Linked DNA regions of Homo sapiens. The protein of the gene in region 1 purifies or fractionates together with the protein of each later gene. This does not show direct contact. Each region holds a gene or a part of one and is shown on either strand. Other genes may lie near its edges.

Evidence for each region.
Region 2: the proteins of MASTL (region 1) and DERL2 purify together in Homo sapiens (affinity purification with mass spectrometry; one large-scale study listed by BioGRID and IntAct). This does not show direct contact.
Region 3: the proteins of MASTL (region 1) and TAP2 purify together in Homo sapiens (affinity purification with mass spectrometry; one large-scale study listed by BioGRID and IntAct). This does not show direct contact.
Region 4: the proteins of MASTL (region 1) and FASTKD5 purify together in Homo sapiens (affinity purification with mass spectrometry; one large-scale study listed by BioGRID and IntAct). This does not show direct contact.

What each region holds. Positions count from the first base shown.
Region 1 is NC_000010.11:27,158,286-27,161,909, forward strand, and holds part of MASTL (serine/threonine-protein kinase greatwall), read left to right. Parts: intron 1-263; coding exon 264-401; intron 402-1,333; coding exon 1,334-1,473; intron 1,474-1,733; exon of another isoform or gene 1,734-1,853; intron 1,854-2,808; coding exon 2,809-2,897; intron 2,898-3,624. UniProt on the Homo sapiens protein: Serine/threonine kinase that plays a key role in M phase by acting as a regulator of mitosis entry and maintenance.
Region 2 is NC_000017.11:5,476,179-5,479,802, reverse strand, and holds part of DERL2 (derlin-2), read left to right. Parts: intron 1-1,803; coding exon of another isoform or gene 1,804-1,846; exon of another isoform or gene 1,847-1,954; intron 1,955-3,624.
Region 3 is NC_000006.12:32,832,240-32,835,863, forward strand, and holds part of TAP2 (antigen peptide transporter 2), read right to left. Parts: intron 3,535-3,624; coding exon 3,404-3,534; intron 3,121-3,403; coding exon 2,915-3,120; intron 586-2,914; coding exon 388-585; intron 223-387; coding exon 94-222; intron 1-93. UniProt on the Homo sapiens protein: ABC transporter associated with antigen processing. In complex with TAP1 mediates unidirectional translocation of peptide antigens from cytosol to endoplasmic reticulum (ER) for loading onto MHC class I (MHCI) molecules.
Region 4 is NC_000020.11:3,153,366-3,156,989, reverse strand, and holds part of FASTKD5 (FAST kinase domain-containing protein 5, mitochondrial), read left to right. Parts: intron 1-3,624. UniProt on the Homo sapiens protein: Plays an important role in the processing of non-canonical mitochondrial mRNA precursors.

The sequences.
Region 1 (3,624 bases):
TATTGCTTGAGGCTCATTTTGGGCCAGCCTGGGCAACGTAGTGAGACCTTGTCTCTACAACAAAATTAAAAAGTAGCCAGATGTAGTCATGTGTGCCAGTAGTCCCAGCTACTTGGGAGGCTGAGGTGGGAGGATAACTTGAGCCTAGGAAATCAAGGCTGCAATAAGCTTTGATCATGCCACTGCACTCAGCCTGGGCAAGAGAATGAGACTCTGTCTCAAAATAAAATAACATGATATCACTTTTATTTTATCTATTACAGGTTGTTAAAAAAGCAGACATGATCAACAAAAATATGACTCATCAGGTCCAAGCTGAGAGAGATGCACTGGCACTAAGCAAAAGCCCATTCATTGTCCATTTGTATTATTCACTGCAGTCTGCAAACAATGTCTACTTGGTGAGTAAATAATTTTTATGTTGTTTCTTTATCCATTAAGCAGTCATTGAACCTAGTGATTTAAGAGAACCATGTTTTGGTTCAGAGTGCTTGCATTTGAATTCTGGCTGCACTCACTGCCTTGGCAAATTTACCTGTTATATTAGTTAGAGTTCTCCAAAGAAAAAGAACCAATAAGATATATGCATACGGTGCGTGTGTATGTGTATGTATATGTACATAGAGAGACAGGCCAAGGGGCCATGGCTCACACCTGTAATTCAAGCACTTCGAGAGGCTGAGACAGAAAGATCACTTGAGGCCAAGAGTTCAAGACCAACTTGGGGAACATAAGGAGACTCCATCTCTACAAAAAAATTAAAGTAAAAATTAGCTGGGCATGGTGGTATGCAGCTAGCTAATAGAGATACCATTGCACATAATTGCACCCCAGCCTGAGATAGAGTCTCCCTCTGTTGCCCAGGCTAGACTGCAGTGGTGCAATCTTGGCCACTCTGCACCTCCTGGGTTCAAGCAATTCTTGTGCCTCAACCTCCCAAGTAGCTGAGATTACAGGCCCAGCTAATTTTTTGTATAAATTAGCTGCCACCAGGCCCAGCTAATTTTTTGTAATTTTAGTAGGGACGGGGTTTTGCTATGTTGGCCAGGCTAGTCTCGAACTCCTGGCCTCAAGTGATCTGCCCATCTTGGCCTCCCAAAGTGCTGAGATTATAGGCGTGAGTCACTGTGCCCAGCCTAAACAGTTTAATTTTTAATTAAAAACTGTTATGGCAACATGAATAAACCTAGTATTAATGTATTACGAGTAATAGCAAGAAAAGGTCGTTTCATTACAGAGCCATGCCAAATATTGTAACTGTAATGCCCAAATACTAGATTTTTAAAGTAATCATATTGTTTTTATTTCACAATATTAAATTCTTTTTTGAAAGGTAATGGAATATCTTATTGGGGGAGATGTCAAGTCTCTCCTACATATATATGGTTATTTTGATGAAGAGATGGCTGTGAAATATATTTCTGAAGTAGCACTGGCTCTAGACTACCTTCACAGACATGGAATCATCCACAGGTAAAGACTGACTTCTCCAAATTATTACTTAAAAATTCAAGTAATCAAATTACATATTTGAGTCTCAGATATTCACAGTAACCACTTGCACTTATTTCCAGGTTATCTAAAGTTTACTAGTAACTTGTATTCATTTAGAAATTAACTCTTCTTTCATCTCCCTGTGTTTTTTAAAATATATTGCTTTGAACATGAGTATAGCATGTATTTATTTATTTTTGTATTTACATATTTATTTATTTTTTTCTTTGTTGAGACAGGGTCTCACTTTGTCATCCAGGTTGTGCAGTGCAGTGACTTGACCTTGGCTCACTGCAGCCTCGACCTCTGGGGCTCAAGCAATCCCCCTGCCTTAGCCTCCCAAGTGTCTGGGAGTAGAGGTGTGTGCCATTACTCTTGGCTTTTTTTTTTTTTTTTTTTTTTTTTTTTTGTAGAGACAAGGTTCCCAGGCTGCTCTTTAACTCCTGGGCCCAAGGGATCCTCCCACCTCAGCCTCCCAAAATGCTACGATTACAGGCATGAGCTACCACGGCCCATTAAGTATGGCATTTTATGTGAAGAGTATTGAATCCTTTCCGCTCCTCTGCATTATACAAAAGTGGTATATTTTGTAGTCCAACTGATTTACAATGTTTTTCTCTATGCAAAGAAAGTCAGATTAAGTGACTTATTAAATCTCAATCTTACCTTCCTTTAAGAAGGTAAATGTAGGCCAGGTGTGGTGGCTCATACCTATAATTCCAGCACTTTGGGAGGCTGAGGCGGGCGGATCACCTGAGGTCGGGAGTTTGAGACCAGAGTGGACAACATGGTGAAACCCTGTCTCTGCTAAAAATACAAAAATTAGCCGAGTGTGGTGGTGGGTGCCTGTAATCCCAGCTACTCGGGAGGCTGAGACAGGAGAACTGCTTGAACCCGGAAGGCGGAGGTTGCAGTGAGCCGAGATTGTGCCATTGCACTCCAGCCTGGGTGACAAGAGTGAAACTCCATCTCAAAAAAAAAAAGAAAAGAAAAAAAAGAAAGTAAATGTAAATTTGAACTGGCTTGAGGTTGATTTTATCTAATAAGGTTTCTTTATTTTAATGGAATATCTAACCAATGATACCAAAGATAATCTAGTATTAATTTATCTTTTTTGTAGATTCTGATAAACAGTACGAAAGATGTTTTGCTTTTGAGAGATGTTTTCTGTACTTTTCAAAGCCATCAATGAGTATCTTTATTTTGGAGGAAATAAATAGGGTTTGCCTCCTTTGTAACTCTTTTTTTCTGGAAATTCTAACATTAAAACTAGCCCTTTTTTGGTTATCTAATATTTGCCTTTTGTGTGTGCAGGGACTTGAAACCGGACAATATGCTTATTTCTAATGAGGGTCATATTAAACTGACGGATTTTGGCCTTTCAAAAGTTACTTTGAATAGAGGTAAGAAAAATATCAAGTAAGTACTTTTTTAAAACATCCAACAGGCCAGGCGTGGTGGCTCACACCTGTAATCCCAGCACTTTGGGAGGCCAAGGCGGGCAGATCACCTGAGGTCAGGAGTTAGAGACCAGCCTAGCTAACGTGGCAAAACCCCATCTCTACTAAAAATACAAAAATTAGCTGGGCGTGGTGGCATGCGCCTGTAATCCCAGCTACTAAGGAGGCTGAGGCAGGGAGAATCACTTGAACCCAGGAGATGGAGGTTGCAGTGAGCTGAGATCCCGCCATTGCACTCCAGACTGGGAAACAAAGTGAAAATCTCTCTCAAAAAAAAAAAAGTCCAACTAAAAATAAATATAAAAAATTAAAAAAAATGAAAAGTCTAACAAATTATAGAGACTACATTTCATTAACTTCCACTGTTTTCTTTGTTAGTTTACACTAAATAAAATTTGTTATTTATCCCAGAATAGGCTAGAAAGGTATAACGGGTTCTTTTTTCCACTGAAGATGAAAAATAGGAGTGATTATTCTTGGCTATTCAGAGGTCCTTGAAGGTCCTTTGATCTTCACAGAGGAACTCACAATTTCTGTTTTTCTGACTTTTATCCCAAGTGAAATTGATTCTTACCAATTAAGCATCAGTAAAATGACCAGAATAACTATAACATGATGAAGGGTTAATAACTGAAAACATATTCAAATATACACGGCCACCACTAAGACC
Region 2 (3,624 bases), on another chromosome or scaffold:
CACTAGAACTTCTATTCTGGTAGGAGCCTGCTGGTTTTATGAAAGCTGCTGTCCACGTTTAGTGAAGTAAGGTAGCAAAATGGGCAAAACTGATGAAAGTTTCTGATGGTGGACTTTGTGGCCTGCCAAGCAGGTGGTTGAGATAAGCAGTGAAGCAGAGTGGAAATAGCTTTGGACTGGAAACCAGGTGTAGCTGTCCCACTGACCAGCCATAGAGCAAGTCCTTTCTTTTTTGCACTTCAGTTTCCTGAGATAGAACTTTGATTTCTTTCTTTCTTTTTTTTTTTTTTTTTTTTTTTTTTTTTTACATGGAGTCTCACTCTGTTACCTAGGCTGGAGTGCAGTAGAACTTTGATTTATGAGACCTCTTTCTACTCTGGAATTTGGTATCCTTGGGAGATGCCATATTAAAAAGGGCTCAATTGAGAAGTAAAATGTGAGTTTTTGTTATAAAATGTTTGTTGTAGAATAGTAAGCAAAAAAGAAGAAAGTGAAATTGTCCACTATCCCGACACTTGGGTATAGCAGTGGCCACCATTGTTAACTTTTCAATGTGTATTCTTCAGTCTTTGTGTACTTTTTAAAAAACGCTGAGCCAGGCAAGGCTGCATACACTATGATTGCGCCTGTGAACAGCCACTGCTCTTCTTGGGCTAGGCCTTTAACATAGCCACTGCATTCCAGCCTGGACAACATAACACATTCCTGTAATCCCAGCACTTTGAGAGGTGAAGGCAGACGGATCACTTGAACTCAGGAGTTTGACACCAGCCTGGGCAACATGGCAAAACCCCATCTCTACAAAAAATCCCAAAATCAGCTGCATATGGTGGCATGTACTTGTAATCCCAGCTACTCGAGAGGTTGAGGTGGAAGGATTGCTTGAGCCCAGAGGGTTGAGACTGCAGTGAGCCGAGATCGCACCACTGCACTTCGGGCTGGGGGACAGAGTGGCACCCTGTCTCAAAAAACAATTTTTGTAACCTTGTAAACTTAGTATGCCATAATTGTTTTTTCCACCCTGAAGTGTTATAAAATTATAACAGGTGATATTCCATGGTATGGATATGGTGTAATTATACTAATCCCTTGTTGATGGACATTGACGTTAGTGCTTGGTTTTCTCTTCTGTAATTGGAGTGGTGAATGTCCTTGTAGCTAAATCTCTGCACACATCCATGATTATTTTCAAAAGATAATTCCTAGAAGTAGAATTCCTATTTTGTTGCCAAACGCCTTCCAGAATGGATGTTCAGGTTTACATTTCAACTAGCATTTATAACTGTTCATTTCCCCACATCCTAATCAAACAAGGAAGGCATTTTATTTACCCTTTCCTAGTTGAATAGTTGTAGGATGATGTCTCATTGTTTATGATTTTTAAAAAATGTTTTGAAACAATTTCAGTCCTACAAGAAATTACATATGCAGTACAGGTCTCACTCCATTGCCCAGGCTGGAGTGCAGTGGTATGATCATAGCACACTGTTAACTCAAGCCCCTGGGCTCAAGTGATCCTCCCACCTCAGCCTCCTGAGTAGCTGGGACTACAGGTGCACACCACCAAGCTCTGCTTATTTTCTTTCTTAAATGTTTTTTTTTGTGGAGACAAGGTCTCTCTATGTTGCCCAGGCTAGTCTCGAACTCCAGTCCTCAGGTGATCCTCTTGTCTCTTGGCCTCCCAAAGCACTGAGATTACAGGTGTGAGCCACTACACCCCACTTTTTATTTTTTTATTTTTTTGCAATTGTTTTCTGGCACAACAAGATATACCAGGCTCATCCTGTGCTCTCCTTGATCCAGTCCTAGAATCAGCTGTTTCTTCAAGGAGCCCTGGTTCCTTTAAAGTGGAGAATGGTATTTAGAAGCCAAGATCTGGGTGCTAGATGTGCTCATTGCTATTGGAGTGTTGCTATTCCCAGATCCTCTCAGTGAACAGAGCAATGGAATTATATGTATGTATGTATGATAATGTATACATGTGTATATTTTTAGATCTATGTATTTTTTAAAACATGGGTTTATACTATACTCCCATTTCTAGTACTACCTCATGGTTCATTCTAGCTTTTTTCCTATTGGTTTCCTCCAATATTTTATTATGAAAATTAACAAACTTATAGGAAATCAGAAAAAAATTGGAGTGAGCTTCATGTAGCCACCACATAGATTCTGTAATTAATAGTTCCCTATTCTTATTGCACACCTATCCCTACATCTAGCTTTCCAATCCAAAATGTATGTGCCATTATATGTATACTTAATTCCTTGTATACTTGAGTGTGCATATCAGTAACTAGAGTTTAGTATTTATGTGCAACAAAATACACAAATCTTGAGTGTGTCAACTGAGTTTTTATAAATGCACACATCTGTGTATCTATCAAGACAGAAAATTACCATCAACCAGAAAGTTCCCTGATGTCCTTCCCTGTCAATCATTGTACCTGTCCCCCAAGAAGCAATTGCTATTCTGGTTTTGTTCCTCTGTAGATTAGTTTTTCATGTTCTACAACTTCATGAGTAGAATTGTACAGTATGCATGTACTCTTTGGTATAAGGCTTCTTTCATTCAACATAATGTTTTTGAGACTCATCTGTGTTCTTGTATTTATTGGTAATTTGTTCCTTTTTATTGCTGAATATTATTTGGTTGTATGAATGTACCACTCCTTTCCATCTGCCCTTTCCATCTGTCCTAACCTGATTCTTATTATGATTAATGTTTTACCTACCTAATTACCCCTCATATGTAACCAGTCTTTCGGGATAGTCTCCACCTCTCCCATATGGATGCCTTGCTTATCTCACTCACCCTCAGATTCCCCAGACCAGGCTGCCCTCTTACAGGGATGCCTCCCCATCCTACTCGGGCTAACATCTCGTCAGGCCACCTCCATGTGTGCATGGTCTGATGGGGCTCTTGACTCCCTATACCAGGCTGTGCCCCCACCCCCATCCTGCTAATGTTTGGGCAGTAGAAGGGATCTCAGTTTTGTTTTTGTTGTCGTTGCTGTTTTTTGAAACGGATTCTTGCTCTGTCACCCAGGCTTGAGTGCAGTGGCTCAATCTCGGCTCACTGCAACCTCCGCCTCCTGGGTTCAAGCGATTCTCCTGCGTCAGCCTCCCTAGTAGCTGGGATCATAGGCATGCGCCACCACACCCGGCTAATTTTGTATTTTTAGTAGAGATAGGGTTTTGCCATGTTGGTCAGGCTGGTCTTGAACTCCTGACCTCAGGTGATCCACCCTCCTCGGCCTCCCAAAGTGCTGGGATTACAGGCATGAGCCACCACACCTGCCGGGATCTCAGTTTCTAATATACTTTCCTTTGATTATTGTGAGAGCAAACATTCTCACGTTTATTGACCACATGGATTTCCTTTTTGAATTGCATATTCAGCCCTTTGCCCATTTTTTCTGTTGGTATGTTTGTTTTTATTGTTAATTTGTAAGAATTTTAAAAACTCATTTTGAATTATACTATTTTCTGACTCCAGTATAAATCAGAAGTTTTCAGATACATTTCTAATTTTATCAACTGTGGAGGATTACAAGTAGAAATATAAGTGCAAATTGAGGATGCTGCTTTAATGGTTCCTTCTTTAGTGAGGTTTTGAATTAC
Region 3 (3,624 bases), on another chromosome or scaffold:
TATTGTTAAAAAGAACAAATAAAGCCCAAGGCCCAGGAGTCCACAAAGAAAAAGAGAGGGAAAAAAGGAGAGCAGGCTTGGCTTCTCGCTCACCTGCACATAGCTCCCCACGCTCTCCTGGTAGATCATAAAGGAAAGCAGGCTGCCCTGGGTGAGCTCCCCATCCTGCATCTGCTGCAGCCCACAGCTCAGCATCAGCATCTGCACCCCCAAGTGCAGCACCTGGAAGAGGAGAAGAAAGAGATGAGGCTGGGAATCTTCCCATTCTTTCCCCCTCTCTGCCTCTATGAGACTGAGCTGCAAAGGCCTCTAGAACCAGCTGTAGTTTCCTCTTCCCTTGCCCTCCCCCTTTCCTGGGCTCCTTTCACAACCACTCTGGTATCTTACCCTCCTTACGAGCAGGTACAAGGCGCGTTCCAGGTCTCTCCGCCAATACAGCTGCCGACATTGTTCAAGGGCCTCTTTATAGCGACAGACTTCATGCTCCTCGGCCCCAAAACTGCGAACGGTCTGCAGCCCTCCAACGGCTTCCCGCACCACCTGCCCCGCCCTGGCCACTGCATCCTGGATCTCCCGAAGCACTTCCTGGAAAAGAGGGCCAGCAAACACCAGGGCTGATGTGCAAAGACAGCAGGCCCCCACATCTTACTCCAGCCAGTGAGATGCTCCCTAGTCTACCTAAAAATACCAAACTGTTTCTCTCCCTCTTCCTTACTCTTCTTTCCAGAAGGAATAAGAGTGAAGGAGCAAGGGAACAAAATATTATTGAGCTCTCAGTGTTAGGTAGTATAGGAGATACATGCAATTTTTTTAACCTTCATTTGAGGTAATTTTCCCATCCCCAGTGTCTGAATCAGGAAAGAAGGGTAGTTTTCCCAAGGAGCCACAGATAGTTAAGAAAGGTGGAGATGTAATTCCAAATGGATCAGAGGCCTAAACATAAGAGCTAACACTATAAAACTCCTAGGAAAATGTAGAAGAAAAGCCTCATGCCACTAGATTTGGCAGTGATTTCTTGGATATAACACCAAACGCACAGGCAACAAAAAATAGATAAATCAGACTTCATCAGAATTTAAAACGTTTGTGCATCAAAGAACTCTAGCAACAGAGTGAAAAAGCAACCATGAAATACAAGAAAATATTTGTGAATCATATATCTGATAGGAAATTAATAGGCAAAACATATAGTGAACTCCCACAACTTAAAAAAAAATCAGAAAATGGGCAAAGAACTTGCAGACATTCTTTCAAGAAAGAAACATAAGTGGCCAAAATCACACGAAAAGATGCTCAATATTTACTAATCATTAGGGAAATGCAAATCAAAACCACAATGAGATAATCCTAATCACCTAATCACCATTAGAATGGCTATTAAAAAAAAAGACAACAGAAAGTGGTGTTGATGAGGATGTGGAGAAATTGGAAACCTTATGCACTGCTGGTGGGAATTTAAAATGGTGCTGCCGCTATGGAAAACTGTATGGTGGTTTGATACGATCTGGCTGTGTCCCTACCCATATCTGATCTTGAATTCCCATGTGTTGTGGGAGGGACTGGGTAGGAGGTAATTGAATCATGAGGGCAAGTCTTTCCCATGCTGTTCTTGTGATATTGAATAAGTCTCACGAGATATAATGGTTTTAAAAAGGGGAATTCCCCTGCACAAGCTGTCTTTTCTCTTGTCTGCTGCCATGTGAAATGTGTCTTTCACCTTCCGCCATGATTTGAGGTCTTCCCAGCCACATGGAACTGTAAGTCCAATAAACCTCTTTCTTTTGTAAATTGCCCAATCTTGGGTATGTCTTTATCAGCAGCGTAAAAATGGACTAATACATGGTTCCTCAAAAATTGTTAAATAGAATTGCCATATGATCCAGCAGCTCCACTTCTAAGTATATACCCAAAAGAACCAAAAGCAGGGTTTCAAACAGGTGTACACTCATGTCCACAGCAGCATAATTCACAACAGCCAAAAGGTGGAAACAACGCAAATGTCCATTGACAGATGAATGGATAATCAAAATGTGATATATGCACACAACAGAATATTATTCAGCCTTAAAAGGGAGGAAATTCTAACACATGCTACAATATGGATGAGGCCTGAAGACATTACGCTAAGTAAAATATGCCAGTCACAAAAAGACAAATACTGTATGGTTCCACTTACGTACCGCACCGGGAGTCATCACAATTCATGGAGACAGAAGGTACAATGGAGGTTGCCAGCGGCCAGGGGTTGGGGGTAGTAGGCAGTTACTATTTAGTGGGTACAGAGTTTCATTTTAGGAAGATGAAAAAAGTTCTGGAGATGGATGGTGATGATGGTTACCCAATAACAATGTGGGTTTCCTAAATGTCACTGAACTGTACACTTCAAATGGTTGAAATGGTAAATTTTATGTTATGTATGTTTTACCACAATATAAGAGAAAAAGAGAAGGTGGAGCTGACATTCAGACTTAGGACTTCCTGATGACGCCTCCTTTCCCTATGCTGCATCCAGACTTCTTCTGCTGATTTTAAAGGGAAAATCTCCCTGCCTAAAAGCCTCTAAGAAACCATTTTTAATCTTCGCAGTGGGGGCGGGGGATGTACAGACTCCTTTGAGAAGCTAATGAAAAGTTATCATCGCCTATCATCTCCCCTTCCTATTCCCTCCCCCATACCTTCACATACACTTTACATTTTTGTTTACAGTTCTGGAGAATCATGAATCTTCTGAAGTCAAATATCCATTGTTGGATGGCTGGACAAACAAAATGTAGTATATACTACAATATACCTTCTCCCCTAATGGCTGAGAAGAGAACATCTCTCTCTAGGGGATCCTCTAGCCACAAATGTGGAAGCCTCCTCACCTGTCAGTTTTATTCTCCCTTTGGGGTTCCCTTACATGCACGCTCACCTGATGGCGGGTGTTGTACACCTTCTCCGCTGCTATTGTGAAGGGCATGTGCAGCAGAGAAAGGAGGGTGAGTCGAGGCGATATGCTGAGCATGAAGCCATACAGCCCCACCACTTTCACCAGGCTTCGCAAGAGCACATTGGCATTTAAAGGAAGCCAGTTACTCATCAGGGTGGTATCCGAGCTCAGCCGTGAGTTCAGCTCCCCTAAGAAGGACAGAGCAGGTGAGGAAAAAGGAAACCATGTGTACTGCAGGGCCCCCAGAAACTCCCTCCTGACCGTTCCCTCTGACACAGCCCCCTCCTCTGAACATCCTCCTTCACTTGCAGAGGGACAGTGGAGGCTGCTTCTCCACCCTGTCCCAAACAAGAGAAAAGCATCCCCAAGTCCTGGCATACGGGTGAAGGCAGGAGGAGAGGCTGTGGGTGGAAGGTCACTGAGGGGCAAGGGATGTCCATGGGAATCTCAGACCTGGACTCCAGGCCCCACCTGTCTTAGTCTCCTGGAAGAAACCGAGGTCCTGGCGCAGCAGGGAGGAGAAAAGCTGCTCCCGGATCCGCAAGTTGATTCGAGACATGGTGTAGGTGAAGCAGCCTCCTCGGCAGCCTGCAGACAGTGAGCTGTGGGGTAGGAGAATAAGAGGGGAGGGAGATGCAGAGAAGGAGCAAGCCAGCGGGTGAAACAGAGGAGCAAGCCAGGAGTGCAGAGAA
Region 4 (3,624 bases), on another chromosome or scaffold:
TGTCTAGCCAGTTTTTTTGCCTTTTTAATTCTTAAGGTTGCTCAACAAATTATTTGCTGAGACAAGAATAGGGTTGGAGTGTTCATTTATTTGTGGCAATTTTATTGGGACATAGAAAGGAAAAGTGTTAGAATTGAGGGATCAGATCTGGTAAGTGGTAAATTGTATGTGTTTAAGGTGTCTTATACTCAGTCTACAGTTAGCATCGCTCCTTCCTCTGCCTGGCCCCCCTCCTCTAACTTCTAGACTCTAGTTTAAAATGAAGCTATTCGGCTCTGCTCAGACCGGTATGTGGAAGGGAGAAAGGTAAGATTCTTCAGTCCTGTGAAATCACATCATTCAGGGAGGTTTGGGCATTGCCTTTTGGAACTGACAGGGTCCAGGAGTGTCTGAGGCTCTACTCTGTTTCGTTAGGACCCCTAAAGGGGAGAAAGGTATACTTGGGGCACTTAAACTAGGAAAGGAGTTTTGTGAAATCATATCAGGTATCTTTGACCTTTATTGAAAGAGTCAGGCCGGGCGTGGTGGCTCCTGCCTGTACTCAGTACTTTGGGAGGCCAAGGCAGGTGGATCACTTGAGGCCAGGAGTTTGAGACCAGCCTGACCAACATGGCAAAACCCCGTCTCTACCAAAAAATACAAAAAAATTAGGTGGGCATGTTGGCGTGAGCCTTTAGTCTCAGCTACTTGGGAGGCTGAGGCAGGAGAATTACTTAAACCCGGGATGCAGAGGTTGCAGTGAGCTGAGATCACGCCACTGCACTCCAGCCTGGGCAACAGAGCAAGACTCTGTCTCAAAAAAAAAAAAAAAAAAAAGAGTCAGAAGTTAATTGACTGAGCATCTCATAGTGTTCTCTTTCCAGCTTTCCTATGGATTTTCTGAGAGTCTTTGAGTAAGGAGGAACTAACCTTCTCAGGTATGTTTTCGCTATCTGGTCATCCTGACTGCTGCTTCTTTGCAGTGTCTTTTCTCCCTACTGTTCTTCTCTGCTGCTTCTGTATCTTCCTTGTTTTTCTTTCCTTCTCCACAGTACTCAAGACCAACTTCTGAAGTCCTCTGTTTCAGACCTGTGTATGTAGATACAGTTTCTATAGAGTTACTGTAAATGTTGCATAGTGAAAAGAGTAAGTAGCCACTGTTTACCATTTGTAGGTTGGCTCTTCATGCCTCTAAGATTCCTTATTTTGTTATCATTTCTGTTATTGAACATCTTTAAAGAAGTTCTTAGGTAGTAGAAAGTGCTTGCACTAAAAATAACTTTTCAACATTTTCCTTATCTATTAAGCTACTTTCTCCATTCATTATCTTGAACAATACCATAATATCTTCATAATACATGGATTTTTTAATTTAATTTTTGTCAAAATTGTACATGTACATGGTTTAAACAGTCAAATAGTTCAGTAGAGCTTGTAACACTAAATAATAGTTTCCTCTCCCGACCCACTTTTTTTTTTTGAGATGGAGTTTCGCTCTGTTGCCCAGACTGGAGTGCAGTGGTGCGACCTCGCCTCACCACAACCTCTGCCTCGCGGGTTCAAGTGATTCTCCTGCCTCGGCCTTCTGAGTAGCTGAGATTACAGGTGCCTGCCACCATGCCTGGCTAATTTTTTGTATTTTTAGGAGAGACGTGGTTTCGCCACGTTGGCCAGGCTGGTCTCAAACTCCTGACCTCAGGTGATCCTCCTGCCTCAGCCTTCCAAAGTGCTGGGATTACAGACTTGAGCCGCTGTGCCCAGCCTACTTTTTGTATTTTTAGTAGAGACAGGGTTTCACCATGTTACCCAGGCTGGTCTAGAACTCCTGGCCTAAAGCAATCCGCCCACCTCAGCTTCCCAAAGTGCTGGGATTACAGGTGTGAGCCACTCACTGATCCTGGCCATCACTATATTTATTTTTTCTTTTCTTTTCTTTTCTTTTTTTTTTTTTTTTTTTTGAGACTGTGTCTTGCTCTGTCGCCCAGGCTGGAGTGCAGTGGCACGATCTTGGTTCACTGCAACCTCTGCCTCCTGGGTTCAAGTGATCCTCCTGCCTCAGCCTCCCAAAATATTGGGATTACAGTTGTGAGCCACCACACCTGTCCAATTGTACTTCTTTATTATGGACTTTGAGGCTCTAGGTCTCTTGTATCATCAACCTCCCCCTACTCCTCCTCTTACTCACTTTATCCTCCCAATATAGTTTGCTCATAATTTTTGGTTAGGCTAATATCAAGATTTATATTAATAAAATTATGTTAGTATTATTCTCAACTGAATAGGGAGTATGATATACTAATATTTTCTTTACTCTTTTTATTTATTTATTTATTTTTTGAGATAGGGTCTCTCTCTGTCACCCTGCCATAGCAGGATCACAGCTCACTGCAGCCTTAACTTTTTGGGCTCAAGCAACCTTCCCACTTCTACCTCCTGAGTAGCTAGGACCACAGGTGTGTGCCACCAGGCTTGGCTAATTTCTAAATATTTTGTAGAGGTGGGGGTCTCACTACATTGCCCAGGCTGGTCTCAAACTCCCGGCCTCAAGTGATCTTCTCACTTTGGCCTCCCAGAGTACTATGATTACAGGAATGGGCCATTGCATCCTGCCTGTGGTAACATATTCTATCTTGTATAACTTTTTTGTCTTCCCTGGCATTAATAATTTTTGTTACTGTTTTTATTAGCATGGCTTTTTGTATCCTTATCTCTTGTTCATGCCCGGATTATCCGGTAGAAGTATGATTCTCCTCTCCTGGGTACTGTCTATGTCGTCCAGCATGAGCTGGTTGCTCTTTATGTCTGTTCACAGCTCTTGTCCTGGGATCTTCCTTCACCTTTTTCCTGGGATTTCCCTTTGCTTCTCTGTATTGAACCCTAGTTTCTGGATCCCATATCTCTACTGCCAACTTTCAGGTCTTCAATTGTGGTAGCTCTCCTTACTTTGATCCTGGAGCATCCTGCGAACTCTTTGCCTCATGTAGATTTCAGCCTTTGAGGTCTTCTCTTTGTTCTTTTTTAAAGTACAGGTTGAGCATTCCAAACCTGAAACTCCAAAATGCAAAATGCTCCAAAATCTGAAACTTTTTGAGCACCAACATGATACTCAAAGGAAAAAAAAATGATTGGAGTATTTCAGATTTTGGATTTTTGAATTTGGAATGCTCACTGGTCAGTATAAAGCACATAGTCCAAAAACTGAAAAAGTTTAAAATCTGAAACACTTCTGGTCTCAAGCATTTTGGACAAGGGATACTCAACTTGCAGTATAAACCGTAGTGATAGAATCGTAGACTGTTAGAGGTGGAAGGGACTTTCAAGCTTACCTAGTTCTAACCCTCCAGCTCCCTGGCACCTGGAAATCCTAGAAGACCATAGATTGTTCAGCCATCCCACCCCGTACTGCCCCCCGAACCTGTTTTCTGACATCCATTCTTGTCTCTCTAGTACACCAATAATGTGGGCTGAAGAGTCAGACAGTCTTTAATATTAGGCTCCACTCAATCCCTTGGCTGTGTAACTTTTGGCAGGTTTCTTAATCTTGTGGTCTCTTTCTCATCAGTAATATGGGGATTATAAACTTACATTACAGAGATGTTATAAGGATGGGAACTAATGCAGATAAAGCAGCTTTACAAGGCTCTA